2 separate regions of the Homo sapiens genome follow, and region 2 is reported to be linked to region 1. Evidence: microRNA targets listed by miRTarBase, many of them from high-throughput screens and not tested one by one. Region 1 holds a microRNA gene; the other region holds the end of a gene's coding sequence.

Region 1 (3,556 bases):
AGCTTATTCCTTTCCTCTTACCAAATAAGTGGAACCCTGCCAGGCTCTTACAATCTAGTTCTAGAATCACTGAGTGTTACTGGCAGGGACCTTTAAAAGTATCTAATCTAATGGTCTTTTTAAAAACAATGAAACTGAGAACCTGCAAAGGCATGTGACTAGCCTCGATGAGAAAGTGGCCCAACTGGGGCTTGAGCCCAGGTCTCCCGCCCTCCATGCTGGTGTGCCTTGGTAGGAGTGTGGACCTGAACTACAACAGGTCATTCACCCAGGCCCCCAGCTCTCCATCCCACAAATGGGCAGGGAAAGGCAGGGAGGTATAAAACACCGGCTTCCTACCTTCTGCTTCGATCCACAGAGAAGACTTAGGCCAGAGTGGCCCTGCACGTCCGCCTTTCCCCTCTCAGGGAGTCCCTCTTTCTGGGTTTGAGTCTTGCCAGTCCGAAACACGTGCGAATAGAATCCCAAAAGCACAGGGCCCAGGCTTTTTTCTGGGCGATGTGCTGTTTTTTTTTTTATATCTCAGACTATGGCTGTTACTGTCCATGGGCTCAACTAATGCAGAGAATTGTAGGACATCTAGCCCTGCTCCTAAAGGAGGCAAAATGATCCTTATCATGCCTGTTATAGCCAAGGAAGGCTGGACCCAATTCCACAGAACTCGAGATGGCGCTTTTCATTTCAAAGAAAAGACACTATGAGCCTTTCTCATATTTCACAGCATGCTGTGTGTTGCACTTGACCTCTACTCTTGCCCTCAGCTTCCCCAGGTGGCCTCGCCTCCCTGCTGCAGCCCCAAAGCAGTAAAGCTACAGCTCTGGGCCATGGGCTGTGGCTTCAGTGATCTAGGACCTGATTCTCCTAAAAACCACAAATGGATAGTTCTTCCAAAGACCCAGGGTCCTCATAGAACTCTCTAGAAACAGTAATGATCTCCTTGGAGCTCAAACAGTCCCTGAGCTATCAGACCCTGCCAACACCAGGGCTTAATGCTCAGGGAACACATTTTATGAGAGCAACTGTCACTCCTGAGCTTCTGTGGGTCACTTGAAATCACCCAGTTATTTTTCACTCAGCTGAGGGGCAGTATAGTTCTGACGGGTGGCTTTGGGTTCACTGCCTTCAACTCCAGTCAGAAAACGTTAGTGCTGAAATGGATCCGGGGTACAAATAGTTGGGTTGTTGACATGCTTTCTTCTGTTGTATACATAAAGGTTCCACATACAAAAACCTATTTGCAAAGAGAGGTCAGATGCTTAAATGTGAATAATAAAAATGCTTATCCATGGGTACTCTAGTTTAATCTCCTCATTACAAGAGGAATCTGAGGCCCAGAGAGAGAAAGTGACTTGTCCAAAATCATACAACTAATATTGCAGCCAGCAATAGAACAAAGAGAGCTCAGGAATTCTGGGTCCCAGTGACTATGGAAAACAATTGTCTGAAATTTTACCACTAGAAATTGCTACTCCCTGCCCCATACTACCTGAGTCTTATTTAGGTAAACAGATAGTAAATATAAACATTATCATTGTAAAAAAATGTTTTAAAGACCAAATATATTTATAAAGTTTTTTAAAGTGATCTTTTGTACCCCTTTGTACTCTACCCAATCCCATTCATTTCCCGAAGGATGTCCGATGTTAACAAATGAGTGTCAAGTCCTTCTAGGCCTTTTTCTATGCACTTAGGAATGTGTTTACAATATATGACTGGGTTTTAAAAATACATACTTATATACTATATGTATGTAGATATAAGTATAAATTTATAAGCCATATTTATATATTATGCCATTTATAAATATAAAATCAAATTGTTCTGTTTTGAGACTTCCTTTGTTCACCTAACCTTGTGTCTTGGCACTTTTTCTCTCTCTTTTTTTTTTCTTTTTGAGATTTTGCTCTTGTTGCCCAGGCTGGAGTGCAATGGCACAATCTCAGCTCACTGCAACCTCCACCTCCCAGATTCAAGCGATTCTCCTGCCTCAGACTCCTGAGTAGCTGGGATTACAGGTGCCTGCCTCCATGCCCACCTAATTTTTGTATTTTTAGTAGAGACAGGGTTTCGCCATGTTGGCCAGGCTAGTCTCAAACTCCTGACCTCAGGTGATATAACCATCTTGGCCTCCCAAAGTGCTGGGATTACAGGTGTGAGCCACCGTGCCCATCCATGGCACTCTTTCCATGTTGGTCAATAGAATCTTGATGTTTTGTCGATGGCTTCATGGTATTCCATTGTATGGATGTACCACAATTTCTATTTAGCCAATTGTCTATCTTTAGGCATTCAGAATAGCTAAAGATGGACAATTGGCTAAATAGACACTGTGGTACACAATGGCTTTTTCTGTTGCAGCCATGGTTGCAGTAAACTTCCTTGTATATAAATCTCTGGGACATGAGCCAATGTTTCTTCAGAAGAGATACCTAGAAGTGAAGATGTGAGATCATTTGTCTACAGAAGGTTTCACTTTAAGTTGTAATGACTCGCCTTAATGTTGTCCAAAGGTTGTTTTTCTAAACCTTATTTGAGGGCCCACAACAGCCATAAACTTTTACTTATGTTTCACCTAGAATCATCACAGCAATCCTGTGAAAGCAAAGTATGATCCCTATTTTTCAAAAAAACTCACTGAAGTAGGAACAGACGAAAAATATCTCAATTTGTGAAAAAGCATTTACAAAAAAAAAAAAACATCTAACATCATACTTAATGGTGCCAACTGAACGTCTTCCCACTGAGATTGGGAATAAGACAAAGATGTCTGCTTTCAACATCTTCTTCAACAGGGTAGTAGAAGTTCTAGCCAGTGCAATATAGCAAGAAAAAGAAATACAAGACATACAGATTGAAAAGAAAGAAATAAAATCATCTCTATTTGCAGATAACATGATTGTCTATTTATACAATCCTAAAGAATCTAAAAAACATAAACTAAAATAAACCTCCTAGAATTAATAAGTGAATTAAGTAAGGTCACAGAATACATGATCAACACTCAAAAATCAAATGCATTTGTTTATCCTGTCAATGAACATGGGGAAACTGAAATTAAAAACAATACCATTTACAATCACTTCAAAGAAAATAAAATACTTAGGTATAAATACATATACTATGTCTCTGATGAAAATTACAAAATGCTGATGAAAAAATAAAGACCTACATAAATGAGGAGAAATACCATGTTCATAGACTGGAAGACTCATCATAGTGGAGATGTCAATTCTTCCCAAATTATCAATAGTTTAACACAATTCTTATCAAAATCCCAAAAAGATTTTGTAGACAAAGCCAAGCTTATTCTAAAATTTGTATGGGAGGCAAAAATTTTGAAAATAAAATAGCTGTGATAACTATTTTAAAAAGTAGGAGGAAGCACTCTACCTTGTGTTAAGTCTCACTATATAGCTACAGTTGCCAAGGTAGTATGATATTGGTGGAGAGATAAACCCACAAATCAATGAAACAGAATAGAGGACTCAGAAATAGACCCACAAAAATATACTCAACTGATTTTTTACCAAAAATACCAAAAGTGCAAAAGCGAGTG
Region 2 (3,277 bases), not on the chromosome of region 1:
TTCATTGATGGCAACGGGAGGACCTCCCGTCTGCTCATGAACCTCATCCTCATGCAGGCGGGCTACCCGCCCATCACCATCCGCAAGGAGCAGCGGTCCGACTACTACCACGTGTTGGAAGCTGCCAACGAGGGCGACGTGAGGCCTTTCATTCGCTTCATCGCCAAGTGTACTGAGACCACCCTGGACACCCTGCTTTTTGCCACAACTGAGTACTCGGTGGCACTGCCAGAAGCCCAACCCAACCACTCTGGGTTCAAGGAGACGCTTCCTGTGAAGCCCTAACCCTAGAAATCCTCAGTGACAAAGGCTGTCCTGAGGTAGGAAAAAAAAAAAGAAACAGCATTTCTAGAAACCTAGTCACTTCCTAAAGCAAAAGGAGAAACATTCTTTACCTCCAAATGTTTTAGTTTTAAAAAAAAAAAAAAACTAAGTTATGAAGCCTTGTCTCTAAAATAACTTATAATTCAACCAAGCTATTTATTTTCTTCTTTGGAGCAAGCTAGTCAGTATTGTATGGTGTCTGCTGTGTCTTGCTGGTGGCCGTGCTTTAGGGGCAACAGTGCCACCATGTGACCAGAACAAAGGTTCTGGAGCAGAATTTGCACTAAGGTGGAGGAGCGGCCAAGAGGTGTGGGACGGGGCCCAGAGCCACTGACATAACTCCTCCAAGTGCTTCTCTGAAACAGGCTGAGAGGTTCTGTGACTGCAACTGGGAAGTCAGACCCAAGTCGCAGCTGAGAGAAATGGTTGAAAGCTCACTTTCTCAAGGTTTAGATTAGTGGTGACTAACTTCCAAGCAAACTTCATAGAAGAGAAAATGAATGCCGACATTCCTTACTTACCTGCAGGAAGACTTTTTGAGCCATAGTTTGCAAACTTTAGTGCCAGCAGCTGTTTTTTTTTTTTTTTTTTTCATATTGAGACTATTTTTCTAATTAAGAATAGGGGGTAGCCATAAAGAGCTGTATGTTGGAGGGGGAAACATGGTGGGCGGGCAGTTTGGTTTTCTTTGTGTATCCGCGTTTCTCTCACACTTCATTTGTAGCAACTCAGGCCAGATGTTTTCGTCTGAAATTCTCTGGGCTTGTCATTCCACCTGTATCGTGCTGCAAACCAGGTGTTATGCTAGTAGGCATCTGCCCTCACCCCTCTGCCTGAGTTTTCTGTAGGCAGATGTTAACCTGAGAAAACAAGTGCCATGTGGACACCAAGTAAGCATTTTTGATAATGAATTAGAGCACCAGTTTCTACTGAATGGAGCAAAAACCTTCAGCCATGGCCAGGCTGCATCCCTTTGGTCCTGGAGTTTCATCTACTTACTGCCATCTTCCACGGTCTTTGCACTGTCCCGTGTCCCATCCCCCTGGGAGGCAGAAGAGATTGCCTCGGAGTGGCCTTATTTTTCTCGCAACTTGTGAAATGATGTAGTGCTCTATGTAATATGGCCGGGTTTCCAAGCTGTCATCCAATGGAAGTAGAATCTTCTCTTTGAATCATATGGTACAGGTGCCAATATGACTGCTGCTATTTAGAGTCAGAGAGGTGGAAGTCACTGGGTCCCTTTCCCAGTGACAGAGCCCATGATGTCTAACACTACTGCACTTTGTCAGTGTGTGAGTGATGGCGAATACGCAGTGTTGTCTCTTTGATTTGGTAATTCCGTTCCTGACAGTAATGAGGCCACTGCTCTAAAGTAGTTTATACAGTTCTTCAGTTGTATAAATAGCACAGAGTAGTTTTTGAAAGGTTAAGAAAAATAAGTGAAAAGACATACACGATATATGAAATGGCTCCAAATGATAATTGTTCAAACCTTTATAAAATGTGTTTTCGTACTCTTATGCTGCCAGAGGTACTTCTTAAAACTCTTCTCGTCTTGGTTTTATAAGCACACCACGGAGGTCTGACAGATGTGCTTGCTTCTACTACAGAGCAAGAGAATTTGCACTTTAGCTATATGTGAAGGATATTATTTTAACAAATTCCTGATTCTAATAAAGTTATTTTATTACATGAATGCTTGAGACTGTCTTATTTGGGAGATGTTCCCATCTGTCATAAGGGCAGTGGGGGTATTCTGACCTTTAGCCCTATTCATAATACTGTTCTGGGAGAGCAACAGATCCAAGATGGTGATTTCCATGGGCAAGAGACCCAGAAGTTGGATAAACCGCCTACCTAGGTGGGCAAGGATGAATTACTGATTTTTTTTTACTAACAAACAGTCAAGTAACTGAAGTAGTTTTTCACATTTCTATTTATCATCAGTTCTGGATTTTCTGGGGAAAACACACAAACCCACTCATGTAGTCCTGGAAATCCATTTCTAGAACAGTCAACACCCGGAACCTAACTGGGTTCTGCTCAAGCCTGAAAAGGTTTGCCCCTGTACCAAGCCTGGGCTGACATCTGCAAGTGTGACATTAAGGTCAGAATACTGGCTGCAGGCAAAGCCAAACCGTTAATGTGAAGCAGCAAAAAGTAAGGCCACACTCACCCATAGTGATATTCAGGGCTCTTCATGTGTCAGGTCCCCAACCATGAGGGCTCTGAGCTACCCAAATCATCACACCAGCTGAACAGTCCATCAGCCTTCCAAGCAGCATCACAGAGAACACTGCAGGAGGAACGCGTGGGACAGCAAAGGTTCTTGCTGCTGTCAATAGCCGCCGCTTGAATTTAATTCAGAAGTAAAGCCTAGTAAAAAGTTGGTTTTGTATAAAAAAGAGATGGAGGGGAACCTACCTTTTAAGACTTAAGAGGCTTACCAACCAATAATTTACAGGGAGGAGAGCTGATATTTGTAGGAAGGTGGAAATTTGAGTGGACAGTTGATGACATGAAGGGATTACCACTAATGTTTCTAGGAGTGAAGGCCTTTCAGTCCTCCTGAGACACCTGCCGCAACATTACTGGATGAGCACAATGACATCTGGAACGTGCCTCAATATAACAGAGGGTGGAGGGGAAACAGACATGAAGGAAGAGGGGCTGGGAGTTGAGGAATGCTGGAAGCTGAATGGTAGGCACACAGGAGTTTATTTTACTGTTCTGTCTACTTTTTAATCGGTTATATTAAAAAATGTTAAGTTAAAAAAATATAGAAAACCCGACTGATGCACAAAAACTTAAACTTACGCAACAGATAAATGAGGAGTTGATTCCCACGACATATACAAGGATTCCCTGACGTCTTTCTCCAGAGTGTCTTAATAAAGCAAGCTTCCCCTACTGAACTGGCCAATGCTGTTGCTGTTTTCAAAGCAGTAAATAT

Evidence for each region. The annotated mature microRNA hsa-miR-4662b reads AAAGAUGGACAAUUGGCUAAAU and lies in region 1 at 2,301-2,322, shown strand. An mRNA with a match to its seed (bases 2 to 7 or 8) in the 3' UTR can be bound and repressed. Matches are read on the target gene's strand: a 7mer-m8 pairs with bases 2 to 8, a 7mer-A1 pairs with bases 2 to 7 and ends in A, and an 8mer does both.
Region 2: the mRNA of FICD is a reported target of hsa-miR-4662b. Seed matches in the 3' UTR shown: 7mer-m8 at 1,326-1,332.

What each region holds. Positions count from the first base shown.
Region 1 is chr8:124,820,754-124,824,309 of GRCh38, reverse strand. It overlaps MIR4662B (microRNA 4662b), which reads left to right and starts at 2,252; the gene lies at 2,252-2,332. MIR4662A (microRNA 4662a) reads right to left here and starts at 2,325; the gene lies at 2,259-2,325.
Region 2 is chr12:108,519,191-108,522,467 of GRCh38, forward strand. FICD (FIC domain protein adenylyltransferase) reads left to right here. Exons shown (of 3, transcript NM_007076.3): 3 at 1-2,020. The coding sequence ends at 285. SART3 (spliceosome associated factor 3, U4/U6 recycling protein) reads right to left here. Exons shown (of 19, transcript NM_014706.4): 19 at 3,024-3,277. Among named protein-coding and RNA genes, the nearest start is that of FICD, 5.6 kb to the left of the region's middle.